Homo sapiens: one gene and its partners. The protein of the gene in region 3 interacts with the protein of the main gene of each other region in a pairwise test. Each region holds a gene or a part of one and is shown on either strand. Other genes may lie near its edges. The genes, in order: ZKSCAN5, TLE1, ATXN10 and PPP1R12A.

Region 1 (6,564 bases), on a different chromosome or scaffold from region 3:
AAGCGAGACCCTGTCTCAAAAAACAAAAAACAAACAAACAATGGTCCCCATGGCCACATGCCCACTGCTGCACCTCTGGCTGTAATGTGAATGGTCTGGGGTGATGTTATATAATAACCAGCCCCTGCAAACCAGGATAGCCACTACCAAGCTTCTCAGTGATGCTGATGGCCCCCCAACCAGGGCATTCCTTGGAACCTTGGTAAACAGAATGCTCTCCAGACCCTCCTAAGGAACATAACTGAAGGTGGGTTGCTTGGTCTTATCTTCTAGTTCCATCCTAGTTTGTGTATGTATGAATCTTTGGATCCCTTTGTTAAGTCTGCCATGGTTTTGTCATCTCTACGTCATTTAATGTGGGCCACTGACTTTTCTAAGCTTTCAAGAATCACTCCAAGGCCAGGTGCAGTAGCTCATGCCTGTAATCCCAACATTTGGGAGGCCAAGGCTGGAGGATCACTTGAGCCCAGGAGTTCGAGACCACTCTGGGCAGCATAGGGAGATACCATCTCTCCAAAAAATGTTTTTTTTTTTTTTTTTTTTTTTTTTAGACACTGTCGCTCTGTCAACTGGGCTAGAGTGCAGTGGCGTGATCTCAGCTCACTGCAACCTCTGCCTCCCGGGTTCAAGCGATTCTCCTGCCTCAGCCTCTGGAGTAGCTGGGACTATAGGCATGCGCCACTATGCCCAGCTAATTTTTGTATTTTAAGTAGAGACCGGGTTTCACCATGTTGGTTGGCCAGGATGGTTTCGATCTCTTGACCTCGTGATCTGCCCGCCTCAGCCTCCCAAAGTGCTGGGTTTATAGGCATGAGCCACCGCGCCCAGCTAAAGTATGTTTTTTAAAAATTAGCCACTCATGGTGGCATGTGCCTGTAGTCCCAGCTATTCAGGAGGCTGAGGTGGCTAGACCACTTGAGCCCGGGAGGTCAAGGCTGCAGTGAGCTGTGATTGCACCACTGCACTCTAGCCTGGGCAGCAGAGCAAGACCCTGTCTATAAAAAAATTAAAAAGCTACCAAGAAGGTCCTCTGACACACACTTGGCATTAAATTGGTGGTTATTTGCCCTGTCATTTTCTTCTCTTCAAGGATTCAGTGACTTTCAGCAAGAGCCACCCAATTCCATAATCTTTATTTTCCTGTTTGTCCCAAACCTCTACAAGTCAATAGATCGCTTTCCACCTGTATCTCATCCCAGTTCCCCACAAGTGAATGACTTAGTGACTGGACAGGTACCACATGCCAGGACTATTAACAGTGATGCGGGTCTTCACTCCCTCCTGGCGAGTGACCAACTCCACAATCCACTCTCACAGCAGCTTCCTATGACCACTTGTGGCACCAAATGTCTTAGATCAGGTTCTCTAAAGCAGAGCCTGAGACAGGGATTCAGAACCATGTGATTGACAGTGTGATTTATTTGGGAAACGCCTTTGAGGGAGGGAATGAAACAGGATAGAGAAGGGAGAGAGCTTAGCACGGATGAAGGCTCAGAAAAAGTCTAGCTTGGCCTGATCCAAGGGTGCCAGAGCAGTCATAGCACCCTGGAGTTTTCTCCGCTTTAATCAAATGAACCAGGTGTTGGGGTGTAGAGAGGAAGTGACTCCTGGGTGAGGTGAGATGGCTCTCATCTCCTGAGGGCAATTCTCCAGTTTCTGGAGAACAAGAGCTGTGAGCACTTGCAGCCCAAACTCAGAGCAGCTGGGGATGGGGGTCTCAGCTTGGTAGAGGGGACTGGACAGGGCACCACAGTGTACAACACATATGGTCAACAAATATTTATTGGGCATTTATTGTAAGCCAGGCAAGTCAGCAGAAACGGCCTGAGCAGTGCCCAAGAGCACTCACTCACTCTCCCTAGCAAACAGGCTCAGAACTCTCTCACACATGTCATCCTCTTTCCCACTCAAAACTCCCACCCCAACCTTCCTGGAAGGCAGGGCTAACAGGACCTCCTGCCTGCCTGCTCACGACTGATTACTTTCAATCCCAGCTGCAATGCAAACTGAAACTCATTCTGTATATCACCACTCTACAGGAGAGGTCTATTTCTGGGGCACCCAGAAGTCAGCACACATACTGCTGGGACCAGGACTCGTAATTCGCCTTGGTCCAACTCCTTCTATGGGTTTAGCTGCCCTCATTCCTGTGGGTAATACAAGATCAAACAGTCCACAACTTTGCCTGTCTTCTCTGCTCCCCTAAGGTCCCTCTCCCTTCGCCGTAAGATGTGACTGACCAGTACAGTTTCTCCTGAATTGACAAACTGAACTACTCCTTCTACCGGCTAAACCCTGACATCAGTAGAATCAAACCAAAAACAAGGTAGAGTGTTTCACAGAGAAGTGGTGGATTGAATAAGGCAGCAGAAACACATACCATCCAGCCCCTGAACCTGAATTTTGCCAAAACAGAGATACTTTAAGTCCATTTCTTTTCAAAGGGGTTAATGCTCAAAGTGGGAATAGTGACTAGGGTATTCTAGTGGTTGGAATAATAATTTCTAGAAAAGGTTCATTGCTGAGGTACCAAAACAGACATCATGCTAAGGAATTCTTTTACTGTGCGCTTCCCTGAATAGATACGCCGTCAAACAAGGCAGAAGCTACAAATAAAGCTTACTTCTACTGAACTCATGAAGCTGTTCCTAGTGTCAGTTTTGAGTTTCAAGTGAAGACTGAATGTCAACTGCAGGCTTTCCGAATTCCTCGACCATGTCCATCCATGGATTCTCTTCTTGTCTAGATTTCCAAGCATGAAGATGCTAACTAAAGCATTTCTCAATGGGGAACACGAAAAGATTTCTATTATTGTGGGTTCTCCGGTGTTCCTAAAGGCTGAGTTATAACTAAAGGATTTCAACCTATTTGTGAGTTTGATGGTAACGCTGGAAAAATGCTTGAAGTTGTTACTTTGCTCATTATAGGAGTATGGTTTCCCTCCAGGAAGGTTTCTCTAAAATTAAGAGCTATTCTACAACAGAGACCCCTCTACACTTAAGGTATTTATGGGATCTGTCCTCTCATGGCTTCTCAGGTGTTTAAAGAGGCTACAACTCCAGCTGAAATTCATTCCACATTCTTTACATTGAAAAGGTTTCTCACCAGTATGGATTCTCTGATGTTGATTAAGATGTGACTTCAGAGTGAAGCCTCTGCCACATTCATGACATTGATGGGATTTTGTGCTGGAGTAGATTTTTTGATGTTGTTTGGTGTGGGAACACTGGCCAACATTTTCTCTACATATATCACATTGATAGGGCTTCTCTGCTGTATGAGTTCTGTAATGCTGAATGAGGTCTGAGCTATAACCAAAGGCTTTTCCACAGATATCACACTGATAAGGCTGCTCTTGTAACTCAATCTTCTTGTCTTCAATCACTGTCAAGTTCCAACTATATGCTTCCTCACAGATGCCATTTTTTTCATTTTTCTGACCCATGTGGAGCACCTGATGTTCAATTAGGCTAACGTACTGAAAAAAGATTTCCCCACATTCACGACACTGATGGGATTTCTCTCGGGAGTGGAGTCGAAGATGTCCAGCCAGGTGGGAACGCCTCCCAAAGCCTTTCCCACATTCGTTACACTTGAAGGGTCTCTCCCCACTGTGCACGCTCTGATGCTGAACAAGGTGGGACCTCACTCTGAAGGCTTTCCCACATAAGGGACAGGTGTAGGGCTTCTCACCTGTGTGGACGCGCTGATGCTGAGTTAGGTGCACGCGTTGGTTGTAGCTTTTCCCACATTCCTCACACCTGAATGGTTTCTCCCCAGTGTGTATTCTTTGATGTTGAATAAGATGTGCACTCTGAATGAAGCTTTTCCCACACTCGTTACATTTATGTGGTCTCTCTCCAGTGGAGGATTTTTTGTGGACATATGGGACTTCACTGTAGTTCATCCTCTTTGAAGATGGTTGTCCTAGTATCTCTTTCATGGGAATTCCCTGCTTTCTATCCAGCTTGCCTTGAAACTCACAGCCTTCTCCAAAATCTTGAACTTGAGAAACATTTCTTTGGGTTTTTCCAGATAGTTCCATGTCTGCTTCTGAATATTCTGAAATTTTCTTCTTAACACTTAATTTTGTGTTCTTACTTCTTTTGTCACTGCCTAAAAAAAATAAAGAGCAAGTGAAAATGTCATCAGTTCTTTTTTTTTTTTGAGATGGGGTCTTGCTCTGTCGCCCAGGCTAGAGTGCAATGATGCGATCTCGGCTCACTGCAACCTCTGCCTCCTGGGTTCAAGTGATTCTCCTGCCTCAGCCTCTCAAGTAGCTGAGACTACAGGCGTGCATGACCACACCCAGCTAATTTTTGTATGTTTAGTAGAGATGGGGTTTTGCCATGTTGGCCAGGCTGGTCTCAAACTCCTGACTTTGGGTGATCCACCCGCCTCAGCCTCCCAAAGTGCTGGGATTACAGGTTTAAGCCACCGTGCCTGGCCCATCAGTTCTTTTATAAAGGAAAAATAAACTGTCATAAAAAATGTTCATCAGATGAAACTATGATGTAACGGGAGTAACAGAGGTGGATGTGTGTGTGTACTTGATGCCAACAGGAATGTAAACAACAAACTTTTGGAATTTTCTGACGAAAAGAGCAAGACTCATCCACAGGATGGCAGAAAATATTTGCAAACTATGCATCAGACAAAGGACTAATATCCAGAATCTACAAGTAACTCTAACAAGTCAACAAGAAAAAAAAAATCCCATCAAAAAGTAGGCAAATGACATGGAGACAGTTCTCAAAATAATATATACAAATGACCAACAAACATGAAAAAAATGCTGAACATCACTAATCATCAGGAAGGTGCAAATTAAAGCCACAATAAGGTACTGCCTTACTCCTGCAAGAATGGCCATTATTAAGAAGTCAAAAGGCCGGGCGTGGTGGCTCACACCTGTAATCCCAGCACTATGGGAGGCCGAGGCGGGCAGATCACCTGAGGTCAGGAGTTCGAAACCAGCCTGGCCAACATGGTGAAACCCACATCTCTACTAAAAATACAAAAATTAGCTGGGCATGGTGGCGGGCGCCTGTAATCCCAGCTACTCAGGAGGCTGAGGCAGGAGAATCGCTTGAACCCAGGAGGCTGAGGTTGCAGTGAGCCGAGACTGCGCCATTGCACTCCAGCCTGGGCAACAGCAAGACTCCATCTCAAAAAAAAAAAAAAAAAAAGGCCGGGTGCAGGTGGCTCACGCCTGTAATCCCAGAACTTTGGGAAGCCGAGGTGGGTGGATCACGAGGTCAGGAATTCAAGACCAGCCTGACCAAGACAGTGAAACCCCATCTCTACTAAAAATACAAAAATTAGCTGGGCATGGTGGTGGGTGCCCTGTAATCACAGCTACTCCAGAGGCTGAGGCAGAGAATTGCTTGAACCCAAGAGGCAGAGGTTGCAGTGAGCCAAGATTGCGCCACTGCACTCCAGCCTGGGCAACACAGCGAGACTCCATCTCAAAAAAAACAAAGAAGTCAAAAAACAATAGATGTTGGCATGGATGTGGTGAAAAGGGAACGCTTATACATTGCTGGTGAGAGATAAATTAATACAACTTCTGTGGATAACAGTATGGAGACTTCTTCAAGAACCAGAAGTAGATCTGCCATTTGATCCAGCAATTCCACAACTGGGTATATCTACACAAAGGAAAAGACAATATACCAAAAAGACTGTAAGCGCCTGTCTTCTGCAGCACAATTCACAACTGCAAAGATATGGAGCCAATCTAAGTGCCCGTTGAGCAATGAGTTGATAAAGAAAATGTAGCAGGCTGGGTGTGGTGACTCGTGCCTATAATCCCAGCACTTTGGGAGGCTGAGGCAGGTGGATCACCTGAGGTCAGGAGTTCAAGACCAGCCTGACCAACATGGTAAAACCTCATCTCTACTAAACATACAAAAATTAGCAAGGGATCGTGGTAGGTGCCTGTAGTCCCAGCTACTCGGGAGGCTGAGGCAGAAGAATCGCCTGAACCCAGGAGGCAGAAGCTGCAGTGAGTTGAGATCACATCACTGCACTCCAGCCTGGGTGACAGAGTGAGACTCCATCTCAAAAAAGAAAAACAAAAAACAAATACATAACTGGGTGGTGAGAACTGACAAAAACTGGAAGAATGAGAGTGAAGGATGATGAAGAGGGTATGCAGTCAGGGAATATCTGACTAGGAGTCAGGAAATAAGGCAAAATGAGCCAACAAGAAGCATTGTCAGAGGGTGGGTGATACAGCAATCCCTGCCCCCTTCACCCTTAGCCAACATTCTAGCCTCAGTTTTCCTCCCCCGGCATGTCATCCTTCTCCTTTGGGAATGCTCATCACCTTTACTATCTGCTACCCCCACCAGACCATCGGCTGCATGAGAGCATGGACTGTATCTCTGTTCTGGTCACTGCAGATCCTGTGCAACTAGCAACACAGACTCTCAATAATATGGCTGGATGTGCAAAACATGTATTCCCCCTTTGATCCAGAAAAATGAGGGAGGACCGGGCATGGTGGCTCACACCTGTAACTCCTAGCACTTGTGGAGGCCAAGGCTGGAGGATCGCTTA
Region 2 (7,025 bases), on a different chromosome or scaffold from region 3:
ATTTTTAAAGTGACCCAGGAAGAATAGCCAATTGAGTTTTTTTAAATTCCAATTCTTTTGTGCACTGGACACAAAATGAACATTAACTTTTCCTGCTTCCCCACGAAGCCACTTTGCTTTTTATAATTCTAGATCTCTTGGAGCACTCATCAAAACTTTACTTGGGGGTAAACCTGGGGTGCTGGCATCCAACACAACCTACCCTTCAAATAACTCTTGTTTCCACCAAAATAAGAAAAAGGTGGCACAGAGCTGAGTAAAGAGATGACACATTTCAAAAAAGTGTCTAAGCCTGCAAGAGTTCGTGACAGCTGACTGCCCACAGCACAGCACTGTTGGGAATCTCCAGCAGCTGCCCTCTAGCCAAATGGCAGAGCAGAGCAGAGCAGCTTTCTGAGGGGTCAGGCGAAGAGGGCCAGCCACCTCCAGCTCTTTCCTCCCACCTCGTCCTCATCTCCAACAGTTTCTCTCCAGAAATAACTAAGGAGATCACCCCCAGGGAGAAGACAGAGGCATGACACCTACAAGCTGCCTATTTATAGAAAGTGTTAACACTCCTCAGGAAAAGACACCAGAAATCTCCTTGGAAACGCCCAAGCCTGTACTCCCTTTGGAATTCTAGTCTGCTAATACCAATGACTGAGTAACCACCTTTAAAACAAAACCAAGGTCTTTGAGGTACTTACGGTTTCCCCCCAGGGATTCCTGCCAGGTTTGGAGGAATGGTAGGTACTCTCATGTGAGGGGGAGGATCAAACCCCACCTGGAAACAAAAATAAGGCATTGCAGACTCAGTTTATTGCAGCAGGCACTTTGTGAACATCAATACTGTTCATTAGAAACTCACAGATCCCCAAAGCAACATAAATGGGAACAGTAACATGGCCTAGTGTTTTTCTTTTTAATTACTATGCAAGAGGTAATATAAGCACCCCTGAACGCCACAAGACCCACTTCCTTTTTGGGAGGTAGAGAGGAGATGTGATCTATTTGTGCACTGAGAACCACTTCCCCATGGTAAATACTTCCCTTAGACTTGCAAGCAAGTTCACAGAGCAGTATGTTGTATTAGGATTTCTCAACCTCAGCACTATTGACATTTGGGGCCAAACAGTTCTTTTCTTTGTTAGGGGCCGTCCTGGGCGTTGCAGGATGCTGAATATCATTCCTGGCCCCTACTGTTTATGTGCCAAGAGGAATCCATACCTGCCCCCCCTCCCACCCCCAGTTATGATAATCAAAAGTGTCTCCAGATATTATCAAATGTCCTCAAGGGACAAAATCATCCCCAGTTGCATACATGGGTCTAATTTAATGCTTAAGGATTCATACATGGATTCCCTACTTTGTGCAGCGTTAAGGACAGCATGTAGTCTCTCAGCTGACCACCTTACTTTCAACACTTTGCCCGCCACTGCACAGCCTCTCCTACAAGTGCAATATCAGGAAAAACAAATGAATCTTAATGTCACCGCAAACTAGTGGAGGTAATGCTATGTGAAGAGGGGACAAGAGAGAAAGGTAGAGGACATTTTTCAAACAGCCAAGAGAAATGACGGTGGGACTTTATACCCTTAATGCAATCAACGATCACAGAGCCAATTCTACCCTTCAAATGCAGTTTTGTTTCTTCTTGTTCAAAAATTAGATCATTTGCACAGTGGCAAGAGGCAGGGCAAACAGACGAGAGACAGCCTGCCCCCGTGGTTCAGTCTGTCCAGAATTCTACCTGTTTACAGAGACCACTGCTTATATATAAGTCATGCTATTGGGTTTAAAGTGTAACATAGGCATAGAAAGAGAAAGCGATGGCTTCTCAGACATTTTTTCCTAAGGTTTAATGAGAAAAAAAAAGTTCAAGAAAATGAATGAAAAGGCTTCTGTGAACCACTCGAATCATTTCATCGCCTTCAAATAAAAAAAATCGACTTTGGTGGGAGAAAACCAGATGTCCCCTGAACCACTGAAGGAGCTTCTAAACACTGCCTTTTTCATCCACAAAAACACTAAAACAAAAAACGTTTGGCCCTCACTTAATGAAGCAGCATGCTGATGAAAGCTGACAAGAGGAAGGTGAGTGTGTGGCTGGGAGACTGGGCGTCTTTGTCTCCGAGGTGTGTGGGGCTGGCTGCTCCTGCCCACGCAGCGCAGAGAGGCCTGGCCCCAAACCTGACAGCGCTCAATGGAGCATGCAGCGTTCCTACCCCAACCACAGCCCACCCGACAGCGGCCTACCATGGGGGAGCGCCCGTAGGCCACCACGGCGGCCGCGGCGGCTGCGGCGCTCATCTGGGGCGACATGTTGTGTAAACTGGCGTAGGCAGCGCCTGGGCTGGTCAGCTCGCCGTTCATGCCAGCGTGGGGGACCATCCCAAAAGGAGCAGGATATGGGCCGGGCACTGCCAGGGGTGTCCTCAAGCCAGCTGCTGAAAGGAAACACAAGCCGCACATCATTCAACTGACCCACTCCATCAAACCTGACCAGCAAGTCTGGCCTCATCATTTGTTAGTGTCACTCATGGGGAGAGAGAAAGAGGTAAGGCTTCTAGGGGAGGGGGAAAATCACCTCCAATTTATACACTGGATCCCTCCTTCCCCAGAGCGAATGCATCTCCAGGAAAGAAAAGACTCCAGGGGAAGCACAACCCACACATTTTCTCATTTGTGTAAATGGCAGCACCAGGAAGCCAGGGGAATTAAGAGTATTCCCTACCCAATTTACAGAGGGCAAACCAAGGCACAGGCACCAAGTGTTTACCTGACTTAATCTCAAAAGAAGATTTTCTCGATAAAATCCAAGATTTCTCTTTCAGTCCGAACTTTCCATTCCCTGGTACCAATTCCAAATGAAAATCCAATCCTGGATTTACGTAAACCAAAGCACGGGTTTAGGAGGAATATTCTGTTGCCTATTTTCCTTTGGGCCCAGGTTGTTGCTTTTTTCCTTTCCCACTGGGGAATATCAGGTTGCAAATTATGAGTTTTTTAAGGGCTGGAGTCGCAGAGAAACCCTCCTAATTTCTACTGCAGGAGAGACCACTGATTCCTGAAGCCTCCCCTAGCAGAAAACCAGCAAACTATAGTCTGCAAGGAGCACGGTTGGGCCAGCCAAACCGCTGTTTCAGCCAGTATTAGCAAAGTCAGACGCACAATGCTAGTTAGGTGGGGAGGCTTGTGTTCAAAATAATTATCAGAAACTTTACTGAAGTCCCTAGGATTTGAATTATTTAAAACTAAAAGAAGGCTGGGCAAGGTAGCTCACGCCTGTAATCCCAGCACTTTGGGAGGCCGAGATGGGCAGATCACCTGAGGTCAGGAGTTTGAGACCAGCCTGGCCAACATGGTGAAACCCCGTCTCTACTAAAAATACAAAAATTAGCCAGGCGTGGTGGCAGGCGCCTGTAATCCCAGCTCTTTAGGAGGCTCAGGCAAGAGAATCGCTTGAACCCAGGAGGCAGAGGTTGCAGTGAGCTGAGATCCCGCCATTGCATTCCAGCCTGGGGGGGACAAGAGCAAGACTTTCGTCTCAAAGCCCAGGAGGCAGAGGTTGCAGTGAGCTGAGATCACGCCATTGCATTCCAGCCTGGGGGGACAAGAGCGAGACTTCGTCTCAAGAAAAAAAGAAAAGCTGAATGTAAACAGTTGGAGACTGAACAGAGTGCAGCTGCTGAAACCCCAGGACAAACATCTGTTTCTTATCATGGCTTTTTCAGAGATAGGAAGGAGGGTGGCCCTACGTACATTTCATATTTGTAGGGCAATTGCGTCACAACATTAACAGACAACAAATCAAGCTGGGAATGGGAGAAACCAAACAAAGCACAACAAGAGGCGATGCTGTACCCGCTTGGTTAACGAGGGGGTCTATGGCTGGAGGCTTGCCGAGACCTGGACGGAGGCCTGGAGTGGCGCTGGTGCCCGGCGTTGGCATGTCGCTCCGAGGCGTTGGTGTGCTGGATTTCAGAACAGGCGTGCTGGCTTTTTCATGCTGGTGTCATTAAACAAATTAAATGAGTATTATTTTTAATCCAAGCCATATTACACAATTTATCACAACAGCAGCTGGGACACTGGGCACCTTCTAGCTACTCCCTCAGCCAATTTTCATAAATCCACACAATGTTGACAGCATTAACTTGTGAGCGAGAAATGTTGACCTTTCCTCTTCCTGCCAGAATTAAAACTCGAGCTAGAGACACAGAACATGATCACACTTCTTCCTCCGCAGATTTTATTTTAAAAGTATTTTCCATCAGCCTTGTGGACTTTGGGTCTACGCCAAGTTAGAAAGATGACCACCCAGAGAATATTTCCCAGGCACTCAGAAACACATGTCCTGGCCGCCAAGTCCAAGGAAGACCCCTTTTCTTTTCTTTTTTTTTTTTTTTTTTTGAGATGGAGTCTCACTCTGTCACCCAAGCTGGAGTGCAGTGGCGCAATCTCGGCCTACTACAAGCTCCGCCTCCCGGGTTCACGCCATTCTCCTGCCTCTGCCTCCTGAGTAGCTGGGACTACAGGTGCCCGCCACCATGCCCAGCTAATTTTTTTGTATTTTTAGTGGAGACGGGGTTTCACCATGTTAGCCAGGATGGTCTCGATCTCCTGACCTCGTGATCCACCCGCCTTGGCCTCCCAAAGTGCTGGGATTACAGGCCTGAGCCACCGCGCCAGGCCAGAAGACCCCTTTTCAAGTCTCCTTTTTAGGTAGCCCTGGGATTGAGACAAATGGTGAGAGAGAGTGGGGCCAGTATCTCAGAGACAAAAGCCCCAGGGCTAACCTTACCAATATGCCTAAAAAGAACAACACTTTGGAGTTAAGAGTCACTGCCCACTTGCCTACATAACCAAAGTGGACCCACCAGTGCAGATCAGAGACTGAACACCAGCAAGGGGCCTTTCGGAGACCAGACAGTAACAGGGTTACAGGGCACCTTCTCTGGCCTTTCAACCTTTCATGTGCTTTACAACACAGTCCAAGAACCACTACAGCGTGGCAAAGAGCACGGGCTAAAGAGAGCTCTTTCTGACCTTGGATCATGAGCCACGGCTGTGTAGCCTTGTTAAGTTATTCATCCCTCCCAACCGGTAAAATGGGATAATGCCTACCGGGACCAGGTAAGGATTAACTGAAGGGTTGTTATGAAATGTTATTGTTAAAAGATGATGCAGTCTACAAAGTTTGATTGAATGAGTGACCACATGAGTGGGTTCTGATGCACCAGTTCCTGGCTTCCCCTGGGGCCTCCTTTGTGCATCACTGATCTGACGAGCTCCATAATATCGGGGCATGCTCTATGACATGCCCCGATATTAAGGATCAGTCTACCAGGTAAATGACCAGCCTAAGAAAATGAAGACTTAAGAATCTCGGAAGTTTGAGGCCAGGTGCGGTGGCTCACACCTGTAATCCCAGCACTTTGGGAGGCCAAGGCAGGCAGATTGCCTGAGGTCAGGAGTTCAAGACCAGCATGGCCAACATGAAACCCTGTAATAAGCCAAGATTGCACCACTGCACTCCAGCCTGGGTGACAGAGTGAGACTCCATCTCAAAAAAAAAAAAAAAAAAAAAAAAAAAAAAAAAAAAAAAAGAAGAAGAAGAAGAAGGCAATGAACATGGATGCGTGTACACCCTCTCTAATGTATGGTGGTACCAGGCGTGGTGGTGAGTGCCTGTAATCCCAGCTACTGGGGAGGCTGAGGCAGGAGAATTGTTTGAACCTGGGAGGTGGAGGTTGCAGTGTGCCGAGATCACGCCACTGCACTCCAGCCTGGGCAACAGAGTGAGACTCCGTCTCAGAAAAAAAAAAAAAGAATCTCAGAAGTTTGAACCATTTGTCAACTGGGAAGTTTCAGAGAGCTGTGTGGCAAGAACATATCCCCCAAGTAAGACGGCAATGAGGCTGGGCTTGTAATCCCAACACTTTGGGAGGCTGAGGCGGGTGGATCAAAGAGGTCAGGAGTTCAAGACCAGCCTGACAAACATGGCAAAACCCCATCTCTACTAAAAATACAAAAAAAAAAAAAAAAAAATTAGCTGGGCATGGTCGCGCGCGCCTGTAATCCCAGCTACTCAGGGGGCAGAGGCAGGAGAATCGCTTGAACCCAGGAGGCAGAGGCTGCAGTGAGCTGAGACTGCACCACTGCACTCTAGCCTGGATGATGGAGTGAGACTCCGTCTCAAAAAAAAAAAAAAAAAGAAGAAGAAGAAGAAGAAGGCAATGAACACAGATGCGTGTACACCCTCTAATCATGGCCGAAAAGAGATGACTGAGGGGAAAAAGTAAACCCTGAATGGTGACAAAGAACAGAAGGATGAGTTTCACTATTAAACTCTTAAAAATACAACCCTCAAGCAGCAAAACCCCCACATTTCCAATACTTCAGAGTCCTCCAGTCCACAATGAAAAATACACTGCCAAACAGGCAAGTGTCAGTTTTCTTTACCTACCAAGCTCATTTCTTTGGATTTCAAAGAAGTGGAACTTGCCGAGGAGGCCGTGGAAGCTGGACTGCTAGAAGCATCCTTCTTTAGCAGGCGATTTTTGTCGATTCCATTTTCCCGGGGCGAGTGGGCAGGGCTTGCTCGCGGAGAAGAAGGGTCCTCAACAAGCATAATCAAAAGTTTTCGTGATTTAGCTTGTAACAGACAGACTTTTCCCTTTCCACACTCATTCTCTAAATTTAAGGACAGAGCTGAAAGTCCTTCGGGTTGGGGTTGTACAAGGTGACCAACACCATGTTATAAATGAGCAATATGGTGTCGGCAAACATACCTGCAAACATGCCATAAAAAAAAAACCCCGCAGTCATATCCCTCTTTGTGCCTCATGCTTAAGAACTTTGCCTAGAGGGCACTGGAAGGAAAGGGGAGCCAAACATCCAACTTAGGCATTCAAAATGTCTAGAGAAATATCTTTTTTTAAAGGAAATAAAACTTTATGTCAGTTAGACCATTATTGCTCCATACATGAGCAACCATTAACTTCTTAATGTAAGAAGTTGCAAGAGGTCCCCCCACCGAGGGG
Region 3 (7,025 bases):
TCTACCAAGAGAAGCACACATATTAACATCAATAGAAATATGCCTCACGTGGCCAGGTGCGGTGGTTCATGCCTGTAATCCCAGCACTTTGAGAGGCCGAGGTGGGTAGATTATGAGGTCAGGAGTTCAAGACCTGCCTGGCCAAGGTGAAACCCCATCTCTAATAAAAAAATACAAAAAATCAGCCGAGTGCGGCGGCAGGCGCCTGTAATCCCAGCTACTCGGGAGGCTGAGGCAGGAGAATCGCTTGAACCCGGCGGGAAGGCGGTGGTTGCAGCGAGCCAATATCGCACCACTGCACTCCAGCCTGGGCGACAGAGTAAGACTCCATCTCAAAAAAAAAAAAAGAAATATGCCTCATGTTATATGCAAAGTACAGGCATTAAAACTGTATATAAAACAATTTGTAAGTCAAATAATATTTTAAATGCAACTGGAGACTTCTCATTTAAAGGTTATATTCATTGAATTATAAGGTAAAGACGTTATTACAATGACAATTTTTTTTTTTTTTTTTGAGGTGGAGTCTCGCTCTGTCGCCCAGGCTGGAGTTCAGTGGCGGCAATCTCGGCTCACTGCAAGCTCTGCCTCCTGGGTGCATGCCATTCTCCTGCCTCAGCCTCCCCAGTAGCTGGGACTACAGGTGCCCACCACCATGCCCGGCTAATTTTTTGTATTTTTACTAGAGACGGGGTTTCACCGTGTTAGCCAGGTAGATCTCCTGACCTCGTGATCCGCCCACTTCAGCCTCCCAAAGTGCTGGGATTACAGGCGTGAGCCACTGCGCCCAGCCAACAACAACAAAATTTAACCTATAATTTAGTACATCTAACTTATCCACCTGGAAATTTACATTAAAATTTTCTGGGGTTTTGTTTTTTTTTTTTTTTTTTTTTTTTTTGAGACAGAGTCTTGCTCTGTCACCCAGGCTGGAGTGCAGCGGCGTGATCTCAGCTCACTGCAACTTCCACCTCCCAGGCTCAAGCAATCTTCCTACCTCAGCCTCCAAGTAGCTGCGACTACAGGCGTGTGCCACCATGCCCGGTTCTTTTTTTTTTCGAGACAGAATTTCACTCTTGTCACCCAGGCTGGAGTGCAATGGCACGATCTCGGCTCACTACAACCTCCATCTCCTAGGTTCAATCAACTCTCCTGCCTCAGCCTCCTGAGTAGCTGGGATCACAAGCATGCGCCATCACACCCAGCTAATTTTTGTATTTTTAGTAGAGAGGGGGTTTCACCATGTTGGCCAGGCTGGTCTTGAACTCCTGACCTCAAATGATCCGCCCGCCTCAGCCTCCCAAAGTGCTGGGATTACAGGCTTGAGCCACTGCACCCAGCCTTTGTATTTTTTTGGAAACGGGGTTTCACCATGTTACCCAGGCTGGTCTCAAACACCTGAGCTCAAGCAATCTGTCCACCTTGGCCTCTCCAAGTGCTAGAATTACAGGCATGAGCCACGGCACCCAGCCTACATTAAGATTTTTTTATCAAATAATTTAGGTTTACCCATAAAGTATTTCAATTCCTGGCACAAAGAGATCATAAATTAAAAATCTACGTTTTTTTTTTAAACATTATGTTAAGATAATAACCACTGTCCAAAGGAAAGATGTTGATGCTAGAAGAACAAAGACCAAAACCATTCTACTAATGAGTCTAAAGAAGTGTGGTGTTTCTCTTAATCCCAAGTCAACAACCGTTAACAATCAGAGCTAAGTTCCATTTTCATCACACTAGATACTTGACTTAGACACTTAACATGTGGTTCCCCTCAACGGAATGTGAGTTCTCTAAGGACAGACACTTTTTGTCTGTTTTGGTCACTGTTTGAATCACACCCAAAACCTGGACCAGGGCCTGTCACATTCATAAATATTAAAAGTCTTACCACAGACTGAATGGCTTAAACAACAGACATTTATTTTTACACAGTTCTGGTGGCTGGAGGTCCAAGATCAAGGTGTCGAGAGGGCTGATTTCTTCTGAGGTCTCGCTCCTTGGCCTGTAGATGGTCATCTTCTCCCTGTGTCTTCACATGGTCTCTACTCTGAGCATGGCCATGTCCTAATTTCCTCTTCCTATAAGGATACCAGTCATATACCCTCATTTTACCTTAATTACCTCTTTAAAGATCCTATCTCCAAATTCAGTCACATTCTGGGTATTGGGGGTTAGGACCATGCTATGATCTGAATATCTGTGCCCCTCCGAAATTCCTATGCTGAAATCTAATCCCCAACTTGCTAGTATAAGATGGGGCCTTTGGGAAGTGACTAGGTCATGATGGTGCAGCCCTCGTGAATGGGATTAGTGCCCTTATAAAAGGGGCCCAGAGAGCTTGTTTATGCCTTCTGCCTTCCACCTTCCACCACAGGAGAACAAAGCAAGAGGCACCATCTATGAAGACGAGAGCAGCCCCCGCAAAACACCCAATCTGCTGGTACCTTAATCTTGGACTTTCCAGCCTCCAGAACTGTAAGCAATACATTTCTGTTGTTTATAAACTACCCAGCCTAAGGCATTTTGTTATAGCAACTGGAACAGACAGACTTCAACATACAAATGTGAAAGGAACAAAATTCAGCCATTCAGGAAGGGAAGTTGATACAACTTTATAATTCTTTAATAATTCACTATTAAAGTTTCCCTATCTCATGAAATACAGAACATGTGTTTCAATGAATGATGTTAATACTCAAAGTACTGGTTTTGAACCCTTTATAAAGATATAAATAATCCATGAATTATATTGCATGCTACCTGTCAACAGAGATTCCTGTTCCACTCGCAGTTCACGAAACAGAAGAATCAAATCAACAGCAACACCAATCGTATCCAAGTTCCTGGGTTTTTTAAAAAAGACAAAATTAGACATGTTCATTCATTCATATATTGTCTATGGCTGTTTTTGCACTACAATGGGAGAGCTGAGAAATCTGACAGAGATTACAAAGCCTAAATTATTTATTATCTGGCTCTTTACAGGAAAAATATAGCAACCCTAGCAGTAGAGGTTATATTTACATGCAGAGCTAACTGCTTCCAACAGCTTTCTTTGAGTACTTCCTGAAGTTTCCCATGACTCAGATTCTTTGCTTTATTGTATTTTACCCCATTCCATGCATTCTTGGCAAAAACAGTCCCAGTCCACACAAAGTGCAAAAGATGTAAAAAGATCTAGGCTTTAATAGCATCACACCTTTTGATGAACTCTTTAACGACTTAAAGTAAAACATCAGAAAAATATGTACTAGTTGCAATCTGAATCTTGACTGGCTCAGAAATACTGGCCTTAGTTAAGCTTGGCCACAAAGTCTTTACTAGAATCTTTGTAGTATTTCTAACTAGAAAATTCTTTTCTGAAAATTGCTGCCCTAAATGGTTGAAATTTTCCTTTAAAAATCAACAGTGAATAATAATACAATCCTAGAAGGGAAGAGGCAGAAAAATTAACACCCTTAAATGTTCATTTTCATTTCCGCCCAACCATAAGTTGCATGCAATAAAAAGATATCACAAACAGCACAGCCCTTGCTTTGCTGGCCCTACCAAAAGACCACCGATAACTTACTTGTCATAGTATTTATTTTTGTAATGTTAGAATTTTTATAGTTTGCATATATTACTCAAAAAAGAAAATAAAAATTGACTGCTTTGAAAGAAAGTATTAACATAAACTTGTGTTGTACATTCATTCCTGAGGCAGAGGCAGAAACATTTAATGTTTACTGAGCACACAATGTGCATTAGGCATTTACATAAGTAATCTCATTTACACCCCATAACCAGCCTGTTTGGAAGACATTGCTTACCTAGTTTTACAGAGGACAAAACTGATACTCAGGAAGACCAAGTCACCTGTCCAGGGTCAAGATGGAGCAGTCATCCACAACAAGACCAGTGTGTAAGGCTCAGGACAGCAAGGGTAGACTGCATTTTTTTTTTTGAGACGGAGTCTCACTCTGTTGCCCAGGCTGAAGTGCAGTAGCCCAATCTTGGCTCACTGCAACCTCCGCTTTCCCCGTTCAAGTGATTCTCCTGCCTCAGCCTCCAGAGTAGCTGGGACTACAGGTGTGTGCCACCACACCCAGCTAATTTTTTATTTTTAGTAGAGACAGGGTTTCACCATGCTGGCCAGGCTGGTCTCGAACTCCTGACCTCATGATTCACCCGCCTCGGCCTCCCAAAGTGTTGGGATTACAGGCGTGAGCCACCGCGCCTGGCCCAGACTGCTTTTGAGCTTAAGCTCAGAACAGTAAGGGCAGACTGCTTGTTAAGCTTAAGCTTTAGAGTCAGATGTCTGGATATGGAGAGAATGTTCCCAGCCTCTCTCACTTAACAAGTGACTCTCAGACAAGTTATTTAACCTCTCCAAGTTACAGTTTCATCTTTTGTAAAAATGAAAAAATTTCTTGAGTTTGTTCTAAGAATTAAAGAAGATACTACAAGCAAAACCCTTGGGACAAAGCCCAATGCCGAAGGCAGGCTCAACGAATGCTCACTCCCTTCCCCACCAAGATTAGCCAAGCACAAAGGTGTATCTGCCAGCCACAGTCAAAAGTTAGTTCTACGGCTCTCCTTTCCTTCCCCATCACACTAGAGCACCTTGTGACTGGAAAAGGACAAAAGAAACTAGCCTTCTGGCCAGATGCTTCTAGCATATAACTAGTTATGTTTTAGAATGTAGACTATTATTATCAAGATTATTGTTGTTTCTATCCATTTATCCTCAAATGGATGGCAGGTTTGGTTTAGTATTGAAGTTACACGACTCACTTTTTACCCTCTCTCCTTTGATCTTAAAAATCTCATTAATCATATCAAAGCCTCGGGTATATGTGTCTAACCGAAGGGAGTCCCTCAAGTGGCTTCTGGACCAGCCCAAGCTTACCCGTCACAGTGGTGACAGGGAAGCCTGGAGGCTCTGTCTACATCCAAGTCCAGGAAGGAAAGTGAGCATCCTGTTTGTGGCTTCTGACTTCAAGTAAAAATTTTTAATAAAAAGCAGGTTCCACAAAATCAAAGAAGAAAGATGCTGTGTTCTGGGAGGAGACGGTAACACGTAAAAGCAAAGAAGAGCACTGGACAGCTCGCCTGCTCATGTTTTAACTACTTTTAAAAATGTGCGCATCATAAAATAGGTGGAAGCAGAGCTTGGAACTTTACATGATCTTTAGGAAAGACAGGTCATCTTGTAAATTTACAAAATATGCTTCTTGTCCAAACACAAGAGTAACAAATTAAAACATTAAAAGTAATTAAAACATTTACAACCTGAGGTCAAGAACTGCATATAAACTTAGGCAGGTAAAATCTAGGAACAAAGACTCAAAATCAGCTTCAAAACACTATGAAGAACCAAATACCTCAAAACATGTGATAAAAACAAACAAGAAATCTAACCCCTAATGTTAAACACACTCCATTATTTTATACACTAGTCAGAGAGACTCCAATGGCAAGGCCTGTAGAGGGCCTCTCCCAGCAGATGTAAAGGGCAATCCTGCAATAACAGTGGGTGATACTATCATGCCAGAACAACTTTTTTTTTTTTTTTTTCCCTGAGACAGGGTCTCACAATGTGGCCCAGCCTGCAGCAATGGCATCATCTCAGATTACTGCAACCTCTGCCTCTCCCTGGCCCAAGCAATCCTCCCACCTCAGTCTCCTGAGCAGTTGGGACTACAGGTGTGCGCCACCATGTCCAGCTAATTTTTTGTATTTTTTTTGTAGAGACAGGGTCTCACCATGTTGCCCAGGCCGGTCTTGAACTCCTGGACTCAAGCAATCCTCCTGCCTCAGCCTCCCAAAATGCTGGGATTACAGGCATGAGCCACCTTACCCAGCCCAAAACAACTTCTAACAGATAAACCAAATGACAGAACCAGCATGCACATATACAAAGAAACAGAATCCAAGGTACGTGTGTAACTACCTGATTGAATTCTGGTTCACAGAACACTCTATGCAAGCATTGCGAAGACACCTGAAGCATTCTGTTATTAACTGCAGACTGGAAGCCAGGTTTTCCACTTGGGATGGATCTCTGCAGGCAAGCTCAACAGCATGAGAAGATTTCTTTAGGATATCCAGAACTCTTTGGAAGATAGTCCTGGGTGCTGTTTCTCTGAAAAAGGATAAAATTATCACGAATCAGAAAAAAAAGATTATGATTTCCAAATGTCCTATTCAGAAAACTGCTTTTATCTACTATTGTGGGGAGGTACGCTACGTTTATCTGCTTTAGCTCCTTAATTTACAACACCAAATAAAAGATCTACACATATTGAGCACTTACTATGCACCAGACACTGTTCTTGTCACTTCTCATGTATTATCTCAGTCTCTGCAACAGCCTTATGAGGCCAACACTGTCCTCTCCATTTACAGATAAGGTAAGTGAAGTAGAGATGGTAAGTAACTTGCACAAATCACTCAGCCAGTAACTGGCAGAGACACAAGGCCAAGTGAAGCACTCTGGCCTGAGCACTTCCACTACCCATGACAACCCAAATCCCAGTTCCAGTGACTGCTCATGCTTATGGATCTACCCTGAATCAGAACAGAGTATCTTTATTTAATGTTCTAGACAGAGAATATATTCTGGTCCTCTGTCACCCAATATGTAGCTAAGTTCAGTTATAAGAAACAATATTCCTGTAGGACAAGGATACTATCTACTCTGTAGACACAGTGAGGCTGACAACACACACACCAAACTTCTACAGTCAACTACATAGATGGGAGAGAAAGGAGAGGGGGAGAATGTAAAGTGTGCCTGTTCTTCCACCAAGAATGTATGCCCAGGGAGAAAGATGAACCTGTGGTTGTACCCTCTGGGCATCTCAGTCTCTGCGTGCCTCTCATGCCAGGAGTACTGCCTGCACTGGCTATCATTCCAGAGCTCTAAAGATAAGAATTTTTTGTGCAACATTGCACCTAAATGCAAGCCAACTTCCTCATTCCATAAATCCCCTAAAGAAACAGCAAATCTCTTTTAACGTTAGAAGGAAAGTTGCCAC
Region 4 (7,627 bases), on a different chromosome or scaffold from region 3:
AGTAAATGAATATTCAAAAAACAATCAACAATTAACCCCGTTATACATTTTAGGTATTCTACGATCTTTTGAGAGGTTAAAGTTTTAAAGAACTATTCAAGGACTATTAAATCAGTGATTTTAGTTTTTACAATTAAGTATGGAAAACAAGCTAAGTTCAAGAGATTTCTTAAAGGCTTAAAATTTTCTTGTGTGTGTGTGGTTTTTAATTTTATTTATTGTCTTTCACTAACTGTTGTCCTAAATTTGCCCAAAGTGAACTCCCTGTTTTCATAGTAACAATGGGAAAAAAGTACAAGAGTTGATAAATAAGAAATGAGAGTGAAGAAAACATAACACAAATTTTTAATGCTTGATATTTTAAAGACTTTGGCTTCACCGATTTAAGGCATTTGCAGATATGGAAAAATGTTATGGAAAAGGGGAGGCGGTTGGAGATTATCGGGTCAAACCCACACTCACAGTGACAAAAAGTGACAGAAAGATATTACGCAAATGGAGTAAATTTAGAAACTTCTGTTTGTCAACTAAAACAAAATACCCAATAAAGATATATCTACACAACACCAAACTGACCACTGAATTCAGTTAATCAGGAAGACATTGGTAAGTCTGACAATTCTTGTAACGTGTGAATATTGAGAGGAGAAAAAAAGATCTTAAGAAGGCAGTTAAATGTATTTTCTCTTCCTCCCTAAACCAGTATCACAATAATGTAAATATCAAAACTTTTCGTCTTCCTCTAAGCCAATACAACTGGGTTCCTCCACAACAATAGTAACTTTAAATTTCTATTTGACAATTTGAATAAAACATATTGATGCGAACCATTATCCAATTATCCTGACCTCCTACAGTAATAATCGTCTTTCAAAATCTGTTTCACACTAAAACGTGTAAAGTACACTTGAAAGAAATTTGAAGATTCATCTTATATAATTACATTATCATTTTTAATGCCAAAAGTTTCCTTCATTCTCAACACCATGGTTTTAAAATTTTACGAGTTATGATATGCCTTAAATAAACTTCACCCAAATAAAAAGTTTGCTATGCATTAGAGAATCTAAATTAATGAAATTGAGAAAGCGCTAGACACCCTGCTATATTTTTACTGGGTGCCACATTTTTAATTCCATATTTGTCCTGCAATGTGTCAATCATTTCAATATATCCAGTCAACTTTGTAAACAAAGGCTATACTCCAAGTCTGATAAGAGAATTCCATTACACAAAATTTAAAATGGTCATCACTCCCTTAAACAGTAAGCAGGACAAGGAAAAATGTCACTACACACCTTTTTTTTAAAAGGCATCAAGTTAATATTCATGAAATATAAAGCCTTGAGTTTCAACCTCCCAAACAAGTTTTTACTACAACATTATTCAAAATAAGGCTATGCATCTTCCACACACAACCAAGGCAACTTTGAGATAGCTTACAAGTCTTTTCATTGTTAAGGGGAAGCTATCGCTGCAAAGTCATTTTCTATTACAGTTATTCCAAGTTGCCCGCTAAGAAAATAGAAAAAGCCTATGTTTTGTCACCTATTACCGTCACTTAAAAATTGCTTTTTATGCATAACTCTACGTGGTTGTGTTGCTTTTGGCCTGTTAAAGGCAAGGCAACATTATCTCTGGATTGCCAATAGTTTCTCCTTATTTGGCTAACATTGAGAGATCCCAATCAGACTACTATAAAACTTTAATATGCACAAAGCATCCATTTTGAGAAAAGTTTGTGACCAGCTTTCTTTTTTCCCAACCCCAAAAGAAAAACCAGAGCTTGGTAACCGGCTTTGAAAAGAGTGTCCCCTATTTATTCTTCTCTTTCTAACACCAGTGCACACCCGAGGACCTGGGGCTCAAGGATCTCTGACACTGCGGCAAACTTCGAGTATCAGACTCAACACGTTCCGGTCCGGAGGTGGGCAAGCCCTTTAGAGGGCTTCCTTACTCTACCCACTTCCATCCCCTTCCTTTCAGCCGGTGCAGATCAGCTAATTACACCCTGTTTTCCCCTCCCCAGTGACCAAGAGTAATAAATGAGAAAACAGGAAATCGTTCGTTCAGGGCACTCGGCTTAGGGCTCTAGATTACTATTATTATCATCATTTGTAATCAAGTCCTAAAAAGTGCAACAAATCCAATGCCCACCTACAAGTCAAAGATGTTCATCTGCCTAACCGTCCGTAATGCCCCTTGTTAGTTTTCTTCCTTCAGCATCCACCCCTCCGAATATACCACTGACACCGGGGCCCAGGCACAACCCCACTACACCCCTCCTTGTCTCGACCCCAAATCCCAGACTTATCCACGAATGGCCCTGGGGCCCCAAACGACCACAGTTCCTTTTCCCCTATGCCCCGGAAATCACCCGGTTCCCAACTCCACCAGCAACTGTTCTGAAGGGGGGCCTCAAGCCCAGCGCCCTCCCTTCCACCAGCTCTCCCTCCCGCCCTCTGGGGAAACCGCCCCCTCACCCCGCAGCAGGGAGTCTCCCGCCGCCCCCAGCCTCAAGAGGTGGAGAACTGAGGGCAGGCCCGAGCAGGAGGCCGACGAGAACCCTCACGGTCAGGAGAGCCGGCGGCGGGGCGCACAGACCTGGTGCAGGGCAGTGAGTCCGTCCACATTGGCGTAATTGATGTCGGCGCCGCGGTGCAGCAGCTTGAGGACCTCGTCCGTGTCGCCGCTGGAGCAAGCAGCCAGGAAGACGGCGCCATCGTCGAACTTCACCTTGGTCTTCTGGCGCTTCACCACCGGAGGCTCGAGGTCCGTCTCGGAGCCGATCCAGCGTTTCAGCTGCTCGTTCCGCTTCTGCTTCGCGTCCGCCATCTTCATCCCCTCTCCTGCCGCCGGGTCTTCTTATCGCGAGGGGGGGAAGGGGGAGGCGGAGAGGGAAGAGAGGGGAGGCAGGGGGTGTGTGAATGTTTCTATGAGTGCGGGCCAGAGGAGGGCTGGGAACCCGGAGCCGACGCTCGAGACTTCCAGTATCCCACAGAGCACTGGGGCGGCGCACCCGGCCGAGCGGACCTCCCTTCCTACCACAGAAGCCCTCCCGCCCCCAGCACGGCCACCCGTCACCGGCGGCCAATCTAACGTAACTTCGCGAGATCCGGACTGGGAGGCGCCCTTCGACCAGTGCGCATGCGCCCTGGGCCTGTGCCCGCCCCAGGAAGAGCGCTCCCGCGAACTGCGGCGGTGGTGGCTGGGCCACCAGAGGGAAGCGGGTGTGGCCCAGGCAGCGGGGGCTGGGACAGACCTGGAAAGGAGGAAGCGGGGAAGGAAGGTTGTCCTGTCGGGCTGGGGGCTCCCGGGAATCCGGAGGCCAGCAGTGGAACCGCAAGGCTCTACAGGGCAGATCTGCCTCCCGTGCTGTCTCAGCTACGCCGAGTCGTTGGCTCAGGGCGGAGGATTTTCCTATTGGCCGCGTTATTTGAATGGAATGGAGGATAGGTCGTGAAGTAGGTGCTGCTGGTTGATCTTTCTAAGGAACTCAGATGAACTTGGGCATGTCAGAATTAATAACCTTTTAAAAGTGGGGTCTGTGTGGCCGAGGGTTTTAATGGTAAGTTCTTGAGGTGACCACCTATTGACAAGGGTTGACCTGCTGTAATTGCTGTGGCTTCCTGCCAACCCCCACTTTAGAAATGTTTTTCTTCCTCTCTTTACTTGTTTTGTTTTGCTTTCTCTCACGCTTGGGTTCTCTTCTTTCTTCCTTCAGTGCTTTAAGCCTGTCTCGTACTACCCATGAGCTTAGCTCAGCCTGATTACTGGTCCTTACCTTTTAAGGGATTTCTGGTTACAGCTCCATCTCTTTCTAAGGAGGGGTAAAGACCTAGCTGCGTCTAGCATTTAAACGGAACGTTAAGGAAGGCAATTAATTCAACCACTATTTATTGAATACCTACTATGAGCCAGTAACTGTACTAGGCACTGAAGATACAATGAAAAATATGACATTTATTTGAACCACCTCTTGAGTTCAGTCGCCCAAACAAGACTAATTTATCATCGTCATAAAAAAAAGACTTTAACTTTGCCTTGTATGACCACACGCGCACACACATAGGATTTGTAATACTGATGTCTTATGAGCCATCTATCTACAATCTCCACCAATTGATTTTACTGAACACTGCATTGTTACCATCCACTACTATTTTTAGAGCATTTAGAAAAGCCAAGATAAAAACCACAAAACCTTACCATGGAAGTTTAGGGGTCATCTAGACAGAGTCCCTCAAGAACTAATTAATTTACTTAATTTTACCCAGAAGTAGGATTAGAATTCACTCAGCAAATACTATGCACCTGTTCTGGGTCAGGCATTGTTCTAGGTGCTGGAGATAGAGCAGTGAACAAATAAGCTTTTCTTACTCTCAGCATGATGCCTTTTCCAGTGGACTACTTCACAGCCTATCATATTGAGAAATAAAATAATTGAGTAAAACGTGATTAGGAAACTGTCTGCCTGTGAGACAATTTTCTGAACCACAGTTATTAGGATAGCGATAGAATCCAGGTCAGGGTAAAAATATTTCCTCTGAAAACGTTGTAGGAATAGAAAATGAATGTAATATTCATAAGATATACCATTGTATGTTCATTACATACATTAAAGATAACATCAGACCTTTGAATACTCATGGTGTTAGGTACTGAAAAACATTGTTAGCACTAAAATACAAAATCCCTATCCACAGAATACAGCTCTCAGAATAAAAGAAAGGAACTTGAGGATTGCCTTGTCAGCTCCTGTCTCTACCTAGGCAACTGACAGCATATCCTGTTTTCCAAGAACGTTATGGCCTATGTGGTAGCTCTTAAAGTGCCCTTGCAGTATAGATGGGAATCTGAAGATTTCATTCAGGCAAAAGGAATTTAGTGGGAAGTATGCTATTCCTGATTCAAGCACTTATTTCAGGATGCAAAATTAATAATAGTTTATTAATAAAACATAATTAAGTTCATTCAGTTCCCAGAAGCTGTCAGGGAAAAAACAACCAAGGAGGGCTGCTATCATGTGCAAATTTCACTGAATTTAGTTTTTCTTCTTTCGTGGCTCTAAGGGTCAAGATGCTCTATGTTAATATTGAAAGTACTCTGAAACTGCCACCTACTTTGTCTTTAGGGAGGATTTTTTTTAAATTGTTGTTAGTGAATTAATGGTACTGAAGACCTTGGGTTAATTCTAGAACAAGCAAAATTTTTTATTGACACACACAGTCCCAGCACAGTGGCTCACACCTGTAATCCTATCACTTTGAGAGGCTGAGGCGAACTCTGCCCAGGAGTTCGAGGCTGCAGTGAGCTCTCTGCACTACAACCTGAGCGACAGAGCTAGACCCTATCTTTACCAAAAAAAAAAAAAAAAGACACACACACACACACACATGCTTTTATTACATATTTGTCTAAGCAGAACAAATGGAAAAAATGCAAATATTTTCACTTCCTAATGGCTTCTAAACAGATTGGGATGTGAGGATACATTTTAGCTCCTTTAAAGCAAATTAAGCCTTAAAATAGAAGTACAAATAAAACTATACTTACTAATTTGCATATATGTATATATAAAAATATATTTTTGGCTGCACCAAATCAATCATATTGGAGGTTTTTGTTTCTGAGACAGGGTCTCACTCTATCGCTCAGGCTGCAGTGCAGAGGCATGATCTCAGCCTCCCAAGTAGCTGAGACTACAGGCGCGTGCACCACCAGGCTTAGCTAATTTATTTTTTAAGTTTTGTAAAGATGGGGTCTACCTATGTTGTCCAGGCTGGTCTCAAACTCCTGGGCTCAAGTGATCCTCTGCCTTGGCTTCTTAAAGTGTTGGGATTACAGGCTTGAGCCACTGTACCTGGCTGGGGGTTTTATTTATTACATGCACAAGATTGTCAGAATGAGATCTGTGTATATCTTTTTCAAAGTTTAATCACACTACTGACATTCCTTACCATTAATTTGCTTGCTAATTATGATCAACTTAATTTAAATTATAAACATATTTGAAATGCTGACATGCACAGCTTAGATTTGTTTCTGCTATTATAATCTCTTTGTTAAAAATGTACATAAGATATTAATAAATACTTTGATATATCTATGTTCTCTTTATCCCTAATTTAAACCTGAGATACTAATTTACATTTATACACTTGAGAATAGAACAGTCAACAAGGACCTTGTTTCTGTCTCCTGTATTCTACACCTGGGCCAAACTCTCTTCCATTGCATAATAATTTCTTTCCAATGTTTTATTTAAGAACCTGAAGAAAAGGCTGGGCACGGTGGCTCATGCCTGTAATCCCAGGGCTTTGGGAGGCCCACGTGGGCAGATCACCTGAGGTTAGTAGTTCGAGACCAGCCTGGCCAACATGGCAAAACCCCCGTCTCTACTAAAAATACAAAAATTAGCTGGGCGTGGTGGCACGTGCCTGTAATCTCAGCTACTCGGGAGGCTGAACCCGAGAATACATGAGAATTACTTGAACCAGAAGGCGGAGGTTGCAGTGAGCCAAGATTGTGCCACTGCATTCCAGCCTGGGTGACAGAGCAAGACTCTGTCTCAAAAAGAAAAAAAAAAAGAACTTGAAGAAAAGTTTACAATCCATTCACATCATAATTTATTTAGTCCTACCCAGGGAGTTGACCAGAACCAACATGGAACCACCCTAACTTGCTTCAGACTCCATTGCTAGATCAATCCTGATTTCTAGATCATAGCATCTAATCTTTGCCTTGCCTCTGGATTACAAGGTGAGTTTCTAATTTACTTTAGGGTAAATTTTCTGCCACATCTGACTCCATTTCAAGAAACTAACCCTATCACAGTACAAGTACTGGCTAATATGCTCATAAAGCTTCTTTTGTTCCCCAAAACTAGGACTCAGATGAGTGTCTGGCAACAATCCAAAGTGCAGTTATACTGCTAAAGAGATAACTCACCTCCATTGCACATGACTCCCAACCTGTATCATGTGACAGAACATCACATGCCCCTTTCATATGAATTAATGTTTCCCAAACTTTATCAGTTTTATTGCCAAATTCAAGAACCGCAAATACTAGTATTTGCTTAATGTTTTCTTTAACCTTTTTAAGACAAATTTATTTTAAAGCAACATTATGTTGCTTTGGTAAGTGAAAAACGTTTCCACTTGACATAAAGAAGACTGTTAAAGCAAATACAATGAAAACAAAACATTAGTTAGGTTGTCTGTCAAGGGTCTGAGCCCAAGCTGTGCTCTCAATTTGTTAAAAAAGGGATATTGGTAAGGGTTGGACATGTGAGCATCAACCTAAGATTTTTCAGTTTAGCATAATCGGAAAGATTAAAAGGTAGTGAAAAAAGAATATTGTGCTAAGTGCTTCACTGTTGTTTTAATGTTACATCTACCTTATAACATTACCTCATGTACCACCAGTCTACATGTCCTACACTTTAGGAAACTGACTGACTTTAATTAGTATGTGTAATAATAATTACGATTAATTAAGTGAAGGTTATAGGATAGGCCTTAGTGGCACCCCCAACTCAAGGTGTCAAGGCAAGGCATTGGCAGGAAGGCCAATTTGTATGAAAATATCTGTGTGCTGAAGGAATTTCAGAAATAAGAGTCAT

The links.
Region 1: the proteins of ATXN10 (region 3) and ZKSCAN5 interact in binary tests that used the Homo sapiens proteins (3 or more experiments, as listed by UniProt).
Region 2: the proteins of ATXN10 (region 3) and TLE1 interact in binary tests that used the Homo sapiens proteins (3 or more experiments, as listed by UniProt).
Region 4: the proteins of ATXN10 (region 3) and PPP1R12A interact in binary tests that used the Homo sapiens proteins (3 or more experiments, as listed by UniProt).

What each region holds. Positions count from the first base shown.
Region 1 is NC_000007.14:99,528,660-99,535,223, reverse strand, and holds the end of ZKSCAN5 (zinc finger protein with KRAB and SCAN domains 5), read right to left. Parts: intron 4,117-6,564; coding exon 2,975-4,116; 3' UTR 524-2,974; downstream 1-523. UniProt on the Homo sapiens protein: May be involved in transcriptional regulation.
Region 2 is NC_000009.12:81,609,534-81,616,558, forward strand, and holds part of TLE1 (transducin-like enhancer protein 1), read right to left. Parts: intron 6,602-7,025; coding exon 6,449-6,601; intron 3,989-6,448; coding exon 3,844-3,988; intron 2,861-3,843; coding exon of another isoform or gene 2,759-2,860; intron 2,427-2,758; coding exon 2,236-2,426; intron 764-2,235; coding exon 687-763; intron 1-686. UniProt on the Homo sapiens protein: Transcriptional corepressor that binds to a number of transcription factors. Inhibits NF-kappa-B-regulated gene expression. Inhibits the transcriptional activation mediated by FOXA2, and by CTNNB1 and TCF family members in Wnt signaling.
Region 3 is NC_000022.11:45,688,817-45,695,841, reverse strand, and holds part of ATXN10 (ataxin-10), read right to left. Parts: intron 6,131-7,025; coding exon 5,939-6,130; intron 2,847-5,938; coding exon 2,764-2,846; intron 1-2,763. UniProt on the Homo sapiens protein: May play a role in the regulation of cytokinesis. May play a role in signaling by stimulating protein glycosylation. Induces neuritogenesis by activating the Ras-MAP kinase pathway and is necessary for the survival of cerebellar neurons.
Region 4 is NC_000012.12:79,932,091-79,939,717, forward strand, and holds the start of PPP1R12A (protein phosphatase 1 regulatory subunit 12A), read right to left. Parts: upstream 3,008-7,627; 5' UTR 2,842-3,007; coding exon 2,605-2,841; intron 1-2,604. UniProt on the Homo sapiens protein: Key regulator of protein phosphatase 1C (PPP1C). Mediates binding to myosin. As part of the PPP1C complex, involved in dephosphorylation of PLK1. Capable of inhibiting HIF1AN-dependent suppression of HIF1A activity.